Regions from separate parts of the Homo sapiens genome. Here regions 2, 3 and 4 are each reported to be linked to region 1. The links are microRNA targets in miRTarBase. Many come from high-throughput screens and were not tested one by one. Region 1 holds a microRNA gene; each other region holds the end of a gene's coding sequence.

Evidence for each region. The annotated mature microRNA hsa-miR-6894-5p reads AGGAGGAUGGAGAGCUGGGCCAGA and lies in region 1 at 1,709-1,732, opposite strand. An mRNA with a match to its seed (bases 2 to 7 or 8) in the 3' UTR can be bound and repressed. Matches are read on the target gene's strand: a 7mer-m8 pairs with bases 2 to 8, a 7mer-A1 pairs with bases 2 to 7 and ends in A, and an 8mer does both.
Region 2: miRTarBase lists METTL1 as a target of hsa-miR-6894-5p. Seed matches in the 3' UTR shown: 7mer-m8 at 3,112-3,118.
Region 3: the mRNA of SMIM7 is a reported target of hsa-miR-6894-5p. Seed matches in the 3' UTR shown: 7mer-A1 at 3,499-3,505.
Region 4: the mRNA of GEMIN4 is a reported target of hsa-miR-6894-5p. The part of its 3' UTR that is shown has no 7-base or 8-base seed match.

What each region holds. Positions count from the first base shown.
Region 1 is chrX:53,197,209-53,201,358 of GRCh38, forward strand. It overlaps MIR6894 (microRNA 6894), which reads right to left and starts at 1,737; the gene lies at 1,681-1,737. KDM5C (lysine demethylase 5C) reads right to left here. Exons shown (of 26, transcript NM_004187.5): 15 at 1,769-1,950; 16 at 1,556-1,680; 17 at 1,282-1,429; 18 at 563-668.
Region 2 is chr12:57,765,408-57,769,407 of GRCh38, forward strand. METTL1 (methyltransferase 1, tRNA methylguanosine) reads right to left here. Exons shown (of 6, transcript NM_005371.6): 5 at 3,896-3,997; 6 at 3,064-3,744. The coding sequence ends at 3,589. CYP27B1 (cytochrome P450 family 27 subfamily B member 1) reads right to left here and starts at 1,671. Exons shown (of 9, transcript NM_000785.4): 1 at 1,440-1,671; 2 at 600-790; 3 at 1-92. The coding sequence starts at 1,634.
Region 3 is chr19:16,643,690-16,647,689 of GRCh38, forward strand. It overlaps SMIM7 (small integral membrane protein 7), which reads right to left. Exons shown (of 5, transcript NM_024104.4): 5 at 2,459-3,572. The coding sequence ends at 3,557. Among named protein-coding and RNA genes, the nearest start is that of SMIM7, 14 kb to the right of the region's middle.
Region 4 is chr17:741,102-745,101 of GRCh38, forward strand. It overlaps GEMIN4 (gem nuclear organelle associated protein 4), which reads right to left. Exons shown (of 2, transcript NM_015721.3): 2 at 3,320-4,000. The coding sequence ends at 3,765. It overlaps TLCD3A (TLC domain containing 3A), which reads left to right. Exons shown (of 5, transcript NM_024792.3): 5 at 200-1,867. The coding sequence ends at 469. Among named protein-coding and RNA genes, the nearest start is that of GEMIN4, 9.2 kb to the right of the region's middle.

The DNA.
Region 1 (4,150 bases):
GGTTCCTAACACTGACTGCTCATTAGAATGCCCTGGGGAATTTAAGAATGCAGATTCCTGGGCCCCACCCTGAGAGATTCTTAATTAACTAATAATTATTAATCTATGCTTTATTTAACTTTTCAGAGGGCTCTGTTCTCAGGGCACCAAGAGACCTCCCTGCCCTAAAAATTGCTATGATTAGTCCTCACATAAACCCTTGTGCTCACCACCCTGGGGTCTGTTGCCCTCTCCATCTCACTCCTCCTCCACCTTCATGAATTTCCCTCCACTTTCCAAGCCCAACAAGCACCCCTGTTACCTCCTTCTCCTCTACCCCTCCTCCAGGAAACCTTACCTGGACTCTGTATCCTATACCCATACCCTTGCCACCTGACCCTCAAGGCCCATTTCTAACAGACAAGTCACTAGACCCTTGCCTCACCCCTCCCACCTGTTCTTTTCTCACACGTGTGTCCTGTCTTGCCTGAACACTTTAAGCTTTTGAAAGGAGCCAAGCATGGCCTGCTGCTCAGGTCCCCTGGTCCCCTTGATCCCTCATCAGCACTCCAAGCGTCCTCACCTTGACATCCCCAATCTGGTGCATGGCGCAAGGCAGGTTGTTCATCTGGTCCAGAAAGGCCCGGAGCTCAGTCAGGGTCATCTGTAGACCAGCCACCCTGTGGGGGCTATGAAGTATCACATGTGAGGTTTCAGGTCCAAACTCAGTGCCTTCCCTCCATGTCTATGCTAAGACTGAACACCTTTCCTCACTACACCTGTCCACCTTGATCTCGCATATTTCAAATTTGCCCCAATTGCCCAGGTTAGAGGGAAGGTTTTAAATTATAGAGCATGTTCATATTATGAGGGGAAAGAATTAGAAACTAATGGGTTGTAATAAGAGCTACACTTTGCAATCCATCCTCTACTGTGAACTCTAAAGCTGTGTTAGCAGGGATCAGGTCTATACATCTTTGTCCTGTTCTTACCCGTAAGCCTCCCACAACTCTTCCCTGCCCACAAAACCCCTCAGCCTCTCTCTCAGGCCACTTCCAGGTACTGATAAAAAATAAACACTTCTAGCTTTCTTATCACAGAGGCTCTCCTCTCCTTTTTAGGTGGCCTGGTCTCCTTGTCCCCCCCAACACCTTCCAGGCCATCTCACACTCTTGTGCCTGGCAGCTTCCTGCTGATGTCCATTCTGCCAAATGGTATTCACAGTCTACCCCTTGCAGCACTTTTCCTCGGTGCTGGATCCTCAGCACCTTATGTGTGCCCTAACTCCTCACGCTGTCATACCCAGCTTCCTGGCCGCTGACCAGTCCCAGAGCTCGGGACACGCAAGCCTCTGCCTCACTCAGGCAGTTCTTTAGTTGCTGCAGCAGCTCACTATTAGGAAACCTCCGCTCACGGGCTTCAGACTCTAGTGCCCTCAGTTCTTCAAGGCCTGGAAGAAAAATGAGGGCAGCAAAGAGTAGGCAGTATTGAATAGAGGCAGAGGAAGGGGGTCAGAGTACAGAAGAAAGGGAATAGAACTTGCCTGTGGAGTCCCTCCATCCCCCCCATCACTCACTGCGCTTCCGCCCATCCTCCACCTCCAGGGCCACTCGCACTTTGTTGGCCCAGGTGTCAAAGGACTCAGCCCGAACCTTCAGCTTATGCAGCATGGCAGGAAGCTCATCCAAGGTATACCGATACCTGGAGGAAGAGGGCAGGCAAGAGCATGTCTGGCCCAGCTCTCCATCCTCCTTCTTGCCCCACTTCCTCCAGAAAGGCCCATGCTCACCGCAGGTACTGCCGGCTACTGGAGCACTTGCAGAGATCATTGATGTGGGAAAGGCAGACAAGGCCGTCTGGGCAGTCGTAGCAGGCCAGGGCTGACAGGAAACACGTAGTCTTGCACTTGATACACTGGCGCTCATCATCTGGGAGCAGCTCGAAAGCCTCTCGCTCAGCCTCTGTGATACCCTAAGGGCATTTAACCTATGCGTTATATATAACCAGAACCAGGTAGCAAAATCCTCCATCTCAGCCACCACCGACCCCTACTTTAGATTCAAATCTATGCTGAGGGTCATGGGGTTTAAGAGGCCAAACCCCAGGGAGCATACCTGCCCTTTGTAAAGTCTAGACTCTCAAAGCTTGGGGAATCAGATAAACCAGGGCAAGATCAGTGTGCGCTGAGTCAGATAATTTTATAGAGGAAGAAAAATCAGGTAAGATCCAGATCAGCAGAAAGGGTCTTGTGGGTGAGAAGTGAGGAAAGTGGTGGACCAAGATACCAGAGAGGTGGCAATGAGTGCAAGTGGCCAAGGGACAGGCCTGGCTAGTTATGTGTACTGGGGAACAATATCGGCTTCCAGTTACTCAGAGCCCACTGTGTTCCAGGCACCACGCTGGCCACTTAGTAGGCAGGAGATACTTGTGCACATATATAACTTAGAGAAATTCAACCGTATGTGCTTGTGTTCAGGGTTTAAAGAGATATAATAATTTTCTCCCAACAATATGGTTTCCAAACCTAATCCAATGACTTCATCTGTTGCTCAGATAAAGAAAAAGCAATCCATTTCAAAAATGAAGGAAAAGCTGGCTATATTGGAGTAATCGAGAGACAACCCAGTGTGTATATCTAATGGGCAATTTTAGGGATTTTAATGGGAAATGTCAACTCTTAACAGTTTTTGTCTTACATACCAACTTTAACACCTAATCTCTGCATAAGTTATGAGCCCAAATCCCACTCTGCCACTTATATGCTGTGTGATCATGAGTAAATCATTTAACGTCTCTGGGTCTGTTTCATTATCTAGTAAGATGGAGATAAACAGTATCATCCTTGTTGGGTTGTTATGAGGATTAACAAAAATAAAGCAGCTATGGAATCAGACAAGTATCTCAGCACTTAGATTCAGTGTTCATCAAATATTTACTGTTATTAGCTCTAATTTTCAGATAAGAATATATATTCCACAGGCCTATCTCATTTTACTAAGGCAGAAACTAAGTCTCAGGGTCAGTAACTTGCCAAACTGAGTTAATTTTGACTCTAAAGCCAGAGAATATTCTAAGGATGAAGTCTCTAGGGTTTTTTTGGACTACAGACTCCTGAGAATTGGATGTAAACTATAAGTCCTCTTCCCAGAAACATACTTAAATACACATACAATCTCTTACAGGATTCCAAGACTATGGTGTCCAGAATGCTTCTCTGAGGTAAGGGCCAAGTGTGAAGAATTCTGAATGTCAAGATGAGAAGGTCTATTCTCCCCACCTTGCTTTGGCTCCTTCCCACAGCTTGGCACAGCCACACGGCCATCATTTAATAACAGTACTGAACAGAGTGAGAAAATGATGCCTGGAAAAGCCCAGGGACTCAACAACTTACACCACGACTGAGAGGCCCCAGACTTCCAACACTACTGTAGCTATAGTTCTCCCTATAGCCCACACTCACAGGAAAGCTATAAATGAGCTTTAAAATAAGAAAGTATTACCCTAGATAGGCAGCAAGGGATCCCACAGAACCAGCACTCCTTTGTAATCTTATGAAAGACTCTCACAAAGTCAATTCCCTAACTGGGCAAGTGTGAAATTTGAAGATGATGGCTGAAACTACACGAGTGGACTTTAGAGCTCTGTAGCAGCTTCCACTCAGCTACACACACAACTGACACAAGCTTACAAGAAATCAATTAAAGCAGGACCACCTTCAGCTTGGTAATATTATTGCCCTAGCTGGAGTTAATAAACCATCTGCATGTAATAAAATGGCAATTCCTGAGAAACATTCCAAATTTCAATCAGTTTCTTCATGTATTAACATTACCAATAATAGCAGCTGCAACATTGCAAAGGCAATGTTAGAGAGATGGCTTTCATATAAATCACCTTACTCTAACCTTACATCTTGCAAGTTAGGTATTTATTCCCACTTTAGAGTAGGAAAGTGAGATATGAAAGATCAAGTAACTTGATACAGTCACCTAGATAATCAGCAGTGAGGTTTCATATGCCAGTCTATTTTGCTAGGTCATGTAAATAATGATAAATAGCTGCTATACCAGTACCTGCCATGGGTCAGTCACTAAGCAAACATTATCTTTAATACAATCAACTATCCAAAAAGATAAGCATTATCATAATCCCATTTTTCAGAGGGGAAAAC
Region 2 (4,000 bases), not on the chromosome of region 1:
TGTTCAGGGTTCCGGCGTAGCGGGCGGCCGCTTGAGGCCGGAGGAGGAGCGGGGCCAGGAGACTGCGGAGCCTTTGCCATTCTTCGCCTTCCCTGCAGGGTTGAGGAGAGAGTGCGCATCGGGAAGGTGGGGACGGCTCGACGGGACTGGCTGCAGTGAAGGAGCGCGTTCGGCTGCGGTGGCCAGGAGAGGGATTGCGTCTGCCCCCTTGGGGTACGGAAACCTGCACCGGCCTGCGCCTGTCTTCCAGCCCCCTTCCTCTTTACTCATTTCCTGCCCTCAGGGGCCGGGGTTCCCGGGTAACTTGAGTCACAGAACCTTACATTCATTCCATCCAGATCCTTGTACCCTAGCCCAATTCCTCCGGTTCCCCCAGTTCCCAGGATTCGGGCCTCAAAGGATAAGGAGGTAGGCGGGGAGTGAGGTTGGGGCTCAACCTGAGTGTGGGTGAAGCAGACTGGGATGGGAACCCCAAGATGCCCAATGGTAGAGTGGGACAGCCGACCTCCCACCATGCCCCCAGATTGATAGTTTCGGGACCCGCAGCAGGAGAGGGCCGCTGCAGGGCGTCTGGGCTTCTGGGGGCAGAGAAGACTCACGCAGTGAGCAGTCCGCAAGCCCGCTGGCGGCAGCGGCGGTGCTCCGTCCAGGGCGAGAAGCTGCAGCGCTCGGGCCGGGGTCCCTCCTGTCGCAGCAGCTCCTCGACGAGTGCAGGGGCAGCCACGTACACGGTGCGCACTGTCCCAAAGCTGGCTAGCCACACCGGCCCGAAGTGCGCGGCGCCCTGCACCTGGGGGAGCGGACACAGCGGACACTTGGATACCTGGGCGGGGACTTTCAGCTTGACCTGTGCCCACGCCAAGGGCGTTGACTGGGCTTGGGAATAGGGAGCTTCTGCTCTTTCTCGGGTGCCCAACTAGTGTATGCCTTTGATACTGCAAACTCCTCCTCTCTCATTTCCCATCCCTAGAAAGTTTGAGTGTGATGGGCAAAACCGGAACTTTGTGCAAGGCAGACATTCAGGACCTCTCTGATCATCTCGGTCGAGGAGAAATCTCTAAAAGTTCCATGTCTGGACTGTCCATCTCAGGACGAGTCCTCAGTGAATGAAAAGGAACCCATGTAGCTTTAAGCCGCAAGCAGGCGGAGGGTACTGCCCACTCCGGCCTCCCCCTCCCGCGCACTTGTACTTTATCTGCAGGATCTCCACACCTCAGGACAGCGAGAAGGCGCTTTCGCAGCGCCCTCTGCTAAGAGTCGGGACGGGCTCTGCCCGAGTGTAGCCACACCGCCCCCAGCCTCAACTCGCCTTTTCCTTATTTCATGGGCATCCGTTCTCTCTGGCTGTCCCACATTTGCTCTGCACTAGTCAGTCCTTTCTGACGCTGTCAAAACCAGTTTCCCCAGCACTCTGTCTCGGGAAAGGCGTCCCTTCCTACCTGCAGCTCGTGTAGCCTCGACAGCCCCCCCTTGCAGAAAAGTTCGGCCAGAAAGCTGGGCGTAGAGGGGCCTGGGATGTCTGCCAAGCTCCGGCGTGCTGAGTGGTACTCTCGGTAGCCTAGGGAGGCGCCCAACTCGGGCGCCCAGCGGACGCGATGGAACACTCTGGAGGCGTACTTGAGGGTCTGGGTCATGGTCTGGTTCAGGGTGCTCGCGAAAGAAAGCGCTTCTCCTGAGCATCATATCTCAACCCCTATTTAACCTTTGGGTGAGGTGATGACGCCCCCTCTCCAAGCTCCTCAGCCAATCCCTCCTCCTGAGTGGTCTGTGCTGGGGATTAGCACCCAGGAACAGTAGGCGGGGCTGGGGCTGACTTCACAACTCCCTTGGGTCTCATGTTGCAATGACCCTCATGGGAGGGAGGGCCTAAGATTTTCCTCCTGGGAGAGTGCCTTTGTCTAGGAGCCTCAAAGTCTCATCCTAGGAAAGGCTATAAGGCTTTTTAGTAGGGACTAGGTGACCAAGCTACACTAGTCAGTCTCTGATATTCCCACTTCTACCAGTGAGCCCAGCCCCTTTAGGCCCATCCTCAGGAATTCCCCATCTTTCAGCTCCTCCAGGAAGGGAAGCAGGGGAGGCACAGCTGTAACTGTCCCCACATTCTTGGCTTAGTGGGTTGTATCTTCTCTGCATTATTTTCCTGCACTAGCCACACCTCCCCCTCCTCCTGTACCTAACATATACTGGGCAGATGGCAGGTGGGTTAATGGGCTAAAATGGCTCCTAGAACCTCCATCTTTCTTTCTTGAGGATAAGGGGGTCTCTTGGGTATACAAGCCCCCTCCTTCCAGACATGGGAATTTGGGGCTTGAGAAGCAGAAATGAAACTTTTTGTACATTAGTTAAGTTCAGAGATTGTCTGTGGGGTGTTAGAGGAGCTAAATGGATGTGGATGTTCTAATTCCCCAGCTGACTCGGTCTCCTCTGGGGGGCTTTCTGGTTAGCAGCTCCTTTCTACTTTTAGCCTCAGAATCCTGTGGTGGCTCATGCCTATAATCCCAGCACTTTGGGAGGCTGAGGCAGGAGGATGGCATGAGGCCAGGAGGTTGAGACAAGCTTGAGCAACATAGCAAGACTGTCTCTACAGAAGAAGTTTAAAAATTAGGCTGGGCACGGCAGCTCATGACTGTAATCCCAACACTTTGGGAGGCTAAGGTGGGCAGACTGCTTGAGCTCAGGAGTCTGAGACCAGCCTGGGCAACATAGTGGAACTGTCTCTACAAAAAATACAAAAATTAGCCAGGCATGGTGGCGTATGCCTGTAGTGCCTTGAGAGGCTGAGGTGGATTACATGAGCCCGGGAGGTCAAGGCTGCAGTGAGTTATGATTGTACCACTGCACTCCAGCCTAGGCAACAGAGAGAGGGCCTGTCTCTAAAAAAAATTAAAATAAAAGAATCTCCCACAGTTTACCTCTCTGCTCCTTACTCCCTCATTCCCCACTGCAACTCTATCAGGCTCTGTGCCAGTCAGCTAGCTCTGAAGTTCTGGAATTGAAGGTCAATGTGAAAAAGGAGAGGGTCTCCACCCCCACACCTTCCCAAGGACTCTCCAGAGACAACACTTAGGGAACACAGATTCCCCAGGTCAAGTCTTACGCAGGGAGAGGACAGGAGGATGGTAGAAGGCATATGATACATACTCCACCCTTTCCTGAGAAATGGCAGAATAGGCATGTGTACACATATACATGTTATCCCAGGATCCACAAAGCAAACAGAAGTGGTAATTGAGCCTAGCAAGCAGTTTAGATGGACTACATTCCTCATTCCAGCTGAGGAGAGATCTCACAAGGAGAAAGGAGTGCTAAGGAAGAGCAAGACCCCACAGCCTTCCAAAGATCCCCTATGGTCCAAAGTCCTTTGACCATCTCAGTCAGCTGCTTTGTTTTCTGTTGGCAGTGGAGGGACAAGGTGAGAGGAGCCAGGGGTAGTCATGAACACCAGTGGGTTCTGCCCTGGGCAGCTCCCCACCTTCTTTAAGAGAGTACTGTGTCTCAGCTCCAGCAGTCTCAACTGGGAAGACCCAGGACTCCTGCTCTTTTCTCTAATCCCTGGGAGACGAGGTCCAGCTAAGGTAGAGTAAGCAGTCAGTGACCAGGCAGGCTGGTTTGGGAGGTCACTGCCTGGAGGACGGGATCTTGTATTCTTCGGAAGATGGCTGGGAAATTCTTCCCTCCATTACGTAGAACTTTCTTCCCCTCCTCAGTTGAGGTGCCTAGATGTCCCACAACGGGGTCTTCACTCTGGGAGAAGGAAGGGTCCAATAAGTCCTTGCCCACTGTTCAGACTGCCCCTGGCCCTTAGACACCTATCCCATCCTCCTGGCACTGAGTTAAGTCCAAATACAGAACCACTCTGGAAAGGGCCTCCACCTCCTCTAGGTCCCCTACTCACCAGGTCCTCCAGAGGCACACGCTCAAACAGTGGGTGCTCTTCGAAATGAGTGCACATCCAGTCGTGTAGCTCCAGCACATCGGTTATGGTATACACCAGCCCCTG
Region 3 (4,000 bases), not on the chromosome of region 1:
CCAGGCCTAAAAAATTTTTTCAAGCAAAGTAAAACAAACAAAAGCCACTTAAAGCCACACCAATGGTATTTAAGGATATTATGGACCCCTCCATGGTTATCTGCCCAAGGAAGCTAATGCCACAATAGAAGCCAATGAAGATCACAACACTGGTGCCAGGGGCAGCCCTGATCACAGTGGACAAAATATAATCCAAGTCCAGCAACAAGGTGGCTAAGGACCTATTTACTGACACTGCACCGTAAGTAAAAATGAGAACTGTAACACCTCCTAGCAACAAAGCAAGTGTAAAGAAAATGATGCTGAAATGAACACAGCAGAACTCATCCTTCCTTATCCACTCTCAAAACATACATACAGGAATATGGAAAATGCTGCATGGGGATGGTGAAGACAGGAAAAGGTTTACCAGGCTGGAAATTGTTTGCGTTTTTTTTTTTTTTTTTTTTTTTTGAGATGTTTTGCTCGTCGCCTAGGCTGGAGTGCAATGGCGCGATCTCGGCTCGCTGCAACCTCCGCCTCCCTGGTTCAAGTGATTATCCTGCCTCAGCCTCCTGAGTAGCTGGGATTACAGGCGCACGCCACCACACCTGGCTAATTTTTGTATTTTTTAGTAGAGACGGGGTTTTGTCATGTTGGCCAGGTTGGTCTCGAACTCCTGACCACAGGTGACCTGCCCACTTTGGCCTCCCAAAATGCTGGGATTGCAGGGTGTGAGCCTCTCACTGCACTCAGTCTGTTTGTAACTTTTTTTTTTTTTTCCGAGACAGAAGATCTTGCTCTGTCACCCAGGCTGGAGTGCACTGGCACGATCTCAGCTCACTGCAACCTCCACCTCCTGGGTTTTTAAGCAATTCTCTGCCTCAGCCTCCTGAGTAGCTGGGATTACAGGGGGCATGCCACCACACCCAGCTAATTTTTGCATTTTTAGTAGAGACGGGGTTTCACCATCTTGGCCAGGCTGTTCTTGAACTCCTGACCTCGTGATCCACCTGCCTCGGCCTCCCAAAGTGCTGGGAGCCACCGCGCTGGCCTCTGTTTGCAATTCGTAAAAATGCTGTCATCAGCCTTTAATGGTGTGTGTGCAGACTGCACAAAGAAAAGTGGATGAGAAGACAGAAAACACACACGGTGATGATACCCACAGCAACAGGTGCTCTCAGGCACTCAGCCGCATTCGAGTTCATTGAAACTTACAACAACCTTAGGCACACACTACTTGCAGGCCGATTTTAGAGATGTGGAAACTGAGGCTTGGAGAGGAGAAAGCAATTAGCCAAGGTCCCTCTCAGAATGAGCTGAGATGGGATTTGTACTCACACCTAACTGACCCAGAACATTAGTGCTTAAACACTGTGAGACACTAGGCACCCAAACTTCAAACTCTGATAACCTCTGGTGCCAGTAAAGTTCTTGAAAAGCTTCCTTAAGAGACACAACCATGAGATTCCATTTTTAAAATGTACAGCAGCCACCAACCAGCATCTGAAAAAGCCACGCTGCTATTATTAACAATGAGACAACAGTTCTCTGGAGAAAAAGAGGACTATTGAAACAAAACCTCAATGACAGGATTCTCTTCTGAGAGCACGATTCATCCCCATAATGGACAAATGCCTCGCCTCATTGAGACCTCCGCGCCAGTCTGAATAAGGCAGGAAGGTTTCTTCACACCATTCATCTGGCCTGTGAGGGACCCAGCCAAGATCTTGGCGTGCCTGTTCTGACAGCGACACCGGCCTCAGCAAAGCCAGACCCAGCAGCTCCGATCTCTGCTACTTACAGACCTTGGGGTGATGCTTGGCTGAGATTTGGCAAGGAAATGAATTGCAGAAGTGATCAAGGAGAATTCCACAACCTGAGAGGCAGCAAAAGTGGACTTGACCCTGGTCTAGCAAGAGCCCACCATTAGCAATGACTCTTTCAATACTTTCAGGAGCAGCTCCAGTCAAAATTCCACTTACTCAATTCTTTTTTTTTTTTTTTTTTTGAGACAGAATCTCATTGTCTCACCCAGGCTGAAGTGCAGTGGCTCAATCTCAGCTCACTGCAACCTCCGCCTCCCAGATTTAAGCAATTCTTGTGCCTCAGCCACCCGAGTAGCTGGGATTATAGGCGTGTGCCACCATATCTGGCTAATTTTTCTATTTTTAGTAGAGATGCGATTTCACCATGTTGGCCAGGCTAGTTTCGAACTCCTGACCTCAAGTGATCCGCCTACCTCGGCCTCCCAAAGTGCTGGGATTACAGGTATGAGCCACTGCGCGCAGCCCCACTTGCCCAATTCTTGACCATCATTTATTGAGCTAAATCCAAAAAGGAAACTCTACCACTGACTCTTTTCTTTCTCATGGCCTCCAAAATGAATCCTAGGTTTTTCCAGCAGGGTAAATTCAAAAGGACTCAGGTTGGAAATTGACTTCTTGGTTAAAAAAAAAAAAAAAGTATAAACAAAAGGTCCTTTTTAGAAATGAGGTTTATTTTCAAGGCTACTCAGTCCTAAAAGCCTGCATATTTACTTTTTTTCCTTCCTCCAGGTTTACCTCCAAGTCAGGATTTCAAAAACCACCAACATTCAGGCTCATTCTTATTGGTATAAACAAACAAACAAAAAAACCAGACAACAAAAAACTCAACAAGCAAATCACACAGTTGTGGGATTCAGCGCCAACCCCGGGCGTTTCATTTTGGCAACAAAACCAGGATTCCCTTTCAAAGAAGCTTCTGGAAAATGCTGTATTTCCTAGATGAAGGCCCCTGGTTTTTCAACCTCAAAATCACCTACTCAAAAAGCAGACTCAGAAACCCAAGGTTTTAGAACATGGTCCCAATGTACCACATCATAAAATCACTCTCATTCCTGCAACTGTACAATGAATGGCTCCCAAAGTCATTTTATTTAACAAAGGGGTCAAGGCAGAGGAAAGTTTCCCTTAATATCCCCACAACTGCTCCACATGTCTTCTGTGGAAACACTTCACCAGGAACTAGCTCAACACTCTTGCTAACAATTTAGTGTCTATACAGGAAGGCTGGTGTCTCTGTTACAGGTGGCCCGTTCCTTAAAGCCTTTAGGGTTAATCGCAGCTGCACTGAGTGGCCAAGCAGACCCTGTTGGGATGTGAAAGCAGTTTGTTAACAGGGCCCCTGGCCGGGCCCAGAGGCTGTCAGACTCAGCAAGTAACACTGAATGTCCAAAAATACGGCTGTGTTAAACTAACAAGCCAATCCTTCTGCTCAGATCTCTGGATAGAAATGATTTTTCTTTTATCTATGGGGAATGCAATTTCATCACAGCCCCTTACATAAACGCTCCTGAAACCCTTTCAGTAGACAGCATTTCAATTCAGAGACCAAAGTGAAACTATCTTTGAAAACAGGGACGTGGCTGGGAAACCATGCACACCTCGGCGAACACTTTTCCACCCACCACGAGCTTGGACTTTCTGGGAAGGTTGTCGGTTTTCTGGTCAAAAACATTCTTGAAGTCATCAGGAATGGAGGAATGGAGACTCGGCATCCCGGGAAAGTGAGTTCCTGGTTTCATCGCTGGGATTCAAGAGCCGAACAGCCTGGAGAAGTCAGAGGGCAGAAATGTCTGTGAGGATAGGAGGTGACTGTTCTAAAAATATTGTCAGCGATTATTTTACATGACTATTACCTATTACTTAGATGATTTTACATGATTGTCTGATTTTTTAAAGTAACCTGTGATCCACCTGTGAATATAATTAACAATACTGAACTACACAGTTAAAAGAAGAATATACTCTTTTTTTTTTTTTAGACAGAGTCTGGCTCTGCCGCCCAGGCTGGAGTACAGTGGTGCGATCTCAGCTCGCTGCAACCTCTGCATCCGAGATTCAAGCGATTCTCCTGCCTCAACCTGCTGAGTAGCTGCAATTACAGGCGCCTGCCACCAAGCCAGATTAATTTTTGTATTTTTAGTAGAAATGGGGTTTCACCATGTTGGCTGGGCTGGTTTCGAACTCCTGACCTC
Region 4 (4,000 bases), not on the chromosome of region 1:
CAATATGATAGTGTTCAAGAATGTCTTCTCCAAGTGTTAGAAAACTAGACAAACGTCTGGGCGCCAGGGAATCTGACAGCCAAGGTCTTGATGAGCACCTGCACCTGTGTGGCATTTACTGTGGTGGGACTTGGGCCCGTCGCTCCCTGATGCCCAGCTTCTTGGTGACCTTACCTTTTTCCTTCCTCTTCTATTGCAGCTAAAGCAGCAGCACACCCTTCTGTACAAGGTGAATGGAATCCTCACGCTGGCCACCTTCCTTTCCTGCCGGATCCTTCTCTTCCCCTTCATGTACTGGTCCTATGGCCGCCAGCAGGGACTAAGCCTGCTCCAAGTACCCTTCAGCATCCCATTCTACTGCAACGTGGCCAATGCCTTCCTCGTAGCTCCTCAGATCTACTGGTTCTGTCTGCTGTGCAGGAAGGCAGTCCGGCTCTTTGACACTCCCCAAGCCAAAAAGGATGGCTAAATGCTCCTGGGAGTCAGGCGCAGCCTCACACCAGCTGCCTCCTCCACTCAGCATTCCATGGACCAAATTGTGCCCTGGGTAGCCTCAGACTTTGGGTATTGATAAGCCGATGGATTTGAGTTTTTCTAAAGAATATTCATATTACCTCCTTCTTCTAACTTGCCCTATTTGCAAAAGCACTTTTGTAGTAACAACTATTGGGTCCTGTCAGACCTCCACGGACAGCAAAGTGGTTTTAATGCAAGCCCAAGGATCCTTCTTAAGGTCTTATCTCAAGAGCTCTGGGAGGTGGAAGCATGGGGTGGGATCGGTGGACCAGGGTGGTAAGTGTCTGCACATCTGCCTGTCCCTGTATCAGCGGCTACCCACCTTCCAAACCACTCAGGACAGTACCCGTGGCACTGGGCCCGCAGAAGCAAGGGATGACTTGGTTCTTGGAAGTAATGTCGTCTTGTGACATTGGCCTGGGACAATCATTGTGGGTAGGTAGTTATTGATCGTTTACTAGATAACCCATTGGTTCTTTGCCTCATCCTCTCATCCATGGGTCAGAGTTGAATTCTTATGTCTATAGACTTCCAATCAGAAGTCTCACTGGTGGGGCTGGGGGTGGGGGCAGGCAGGAGGCATGGATGGGAACCTGAGTAGGTAGTGTGGCCAAGAGATCAGCACAACCTTTGCAGGCTGACTTGCTAAGTCTGACAGTGACAAACTTGTGAGCTTACTGCAGTCAGTCACAGAGGCTGTTCTTTTTCACACACCCCTTCATGCCCGGCTTTCCCCATATCCACATGCAGAGGGCGAGCTCATAAAACTACAGGGAAGCGTGAAATGATGGCTTTGGTAGCTGTTTACTGGGTAACCCCACTGTGACACTGTCCTTTTCATGTGATGTGGAAACCTACTTCTGTCCTCCAAACCATGAAATGTGTCATCTAGACTGCAGAGTACTTGAGTGCTTTGCCTCCCGATATGCCAGAGCTTGTGGTCCAAAGCCCATTCCTGTGTGTCCGTCCTGCCATTTAGCCACAGAAGGCTGCGGAGTGAGGCGGCAGCTAGCCTGGCCAGTGGCTGTCCCGTGGACCGACACCTGCGCCCCCTTCTGCAAGCAGGATTTTCTGGTGCCAACACTCATTCATCATTCCCGATCAACTAGGATGAATTTAAGACTGTGCTACCATGTGTTCTCAAGTGGTAGTTTAAAAAGTGGATTTTTAAAGTGCCTTTCAATTGTCTGTGAACGTCTAAAGGACTGATTTGTCTCATTTTGACTGTTGAGTCTTTAATGGGTGCCATTTAAAAAACAAAATGCTATTTTTTAATTGTCTTTTTTTTTTAACTATCAGTGTATCTTTAAAAGTCACCCTTACGGTGATTAAATTGCACTAACATTCCCAACTTATTCTCATTTGTGAAATACATCAATATCAGTGTCCTGTAAGAATCATCCTGTGACCTAGCTCGACTGGCTGCCGTGTGCTGTGGCTCAAGGTCTGTGTCCATGTAACTAGCAGAGGGGTGTGTGTGTGAATGCTTTCAGCCTCCAGAAAGGTCTAGCTCACACCTCACTCAAACCTATTTTTGTGGTTCATGGTCTCAGTAATACATTGAAGGTTCCCAGAGTTCAAGCGTAGTGGTCACACGTAACTTGAGACCGTTTCTTCTCTTCATAAGTGAATCTTACTAGGAATTGGGAGAGTGGAAGACCGATTATTGGTCAGGGAGCCAAGCCTACTTTACCTGAGGAGAACCTGAGTAATGCCCCATTGTGAAGGAGGGTGTGGATATGGAGGGAGTGATGGGACATATTTTTTCCCCCTTTCATCTCACACATTAAACATGTCCCCAGCCAATTTTCATAGTTTCCTCATACCTCAGACACCTTAAACTCATTTTTTTTTCTTTTTGTAGAGACAGGTTATCTCTGTTGCCCAGGCTGGTCTCAAACTCCTGGCCTCAAGTGATCCTCCTGCCTCAGCCTCCCAAAGCACTGGGATTATTACAGGTGTGAGCCACCATGCCTAGCCCACTCTCAATTTTTTTTTTTTTTGTTTTAGACAGGGTCTCACTCTGTCACCAAGGCTGGAGTGCAGTGGTCTGATCTCAGCTTACTGCAGCCTCTACCTCCCAGGATCAAGTGAGCCTCCTGCTTTAGAACCCTGAGTAGCTGGGACTACAGCTGTGTGTCACCACACCTAGCTAATTTTTGTGGTTTTTTTTTTGTAGAGACAGGGCTTCCATATGTTGGCTGGTCTCAAGTGATCCTCCCGCCTCGGCCTCCCAAAGTGCTGAGATTACAGGTGTGAGTCACCGCACCTGGCCCAAACTCATTTTTTATGTTCCTGCACACATCATTCCCTTATCCAAACCATTCATTCATCCAAATCTTGACAACCCCTCCTGAGGCAAAAGCTAACGTGACCCATCCATTCAGCACATCTCTGCTGGGTTTGCCAGGTCTCGTCTTCACAGTAGCCCCTTTGGGGGTGACTGAATAGATGGAGTTAAGACTGTATGGGAAGTGGGTGTGCTTATTGTCCCAGCTACTCAGGAGGCTGAGGTGGGAGGATCACTTGAGTCCAGGGGTTCAAGGCTAGTCTGAGCAACAAAGACTGTACACACTCCTCAATTCAGAGGGGACCCATTTTCTTGAGGTCACTAACCTAGCCCCTCGCCACTGAGTTTATCTTGGTCCTCCAATCCTCTCATTTTAGAATTGTGCAGGCCTCTCGGGCACAGCAGTCTCATGGCCAGAGGCAGAGCCAGGGCTGGACTGGATTCTTTTCCAAGCTGCTGTCCTTTCCAAGATACCTCAAGAAAAAAACATTAAAAGACGAAATAACTCTTGAAGGGGGTTATACGTACCATGTAATGCTTTTTCCACTCACATGGTTTCAACTTTGGGCTTATTTGCCAAAATCTAGGATGGAAAAGTCCAGTTATGAACATGTTCCTCCTGGCTGGATTTGATCTTGAAGACACTAAACCCAATTTCAGAGCATATTTAATCCTGGGCTATTGCTGAGGCCGACTTAGAAGAGACAAAGTGAGATGCGAAAGAGGAGAATTTTTATGATAGTTTGTACGTTACAAATACCCAAGAAACTATTTTCTTTACACCATTATTGCCATGACTTTTTGTGGACAGTTTCACATAACTGTAAAGTCCAGGCTGCTCGGGTCTGACCCCTACAGACCTGCCATGTTGAAGCCCAGCTTTTTCGCTCCCGCACAGGTAAGAAGCTGCTGATCTTCTGCAGACCCGCCATGTTGGGGCCCAGCTCCCCACGCCAAGTCAGAAGCTGCTCATCTTCTGCAACAGGGTTTGGCGCCGTTCTTCAGGGCCGATGCCCTCAGCAATGGACTTTAAGAAGCGCTGCTCGTGTGCCCTCTGGAGCAAGGAGCTGACAGAAGGGTTGGTCTTGCTCAAAGTCTCATAGCAGGTGAGGGTTTCCAAGGCTAAAACGTAGAGTGGCTCACAGACCTCCGGGTGGAGCATGGCCATGATGTGCAGAGCATGGCAGAACACCT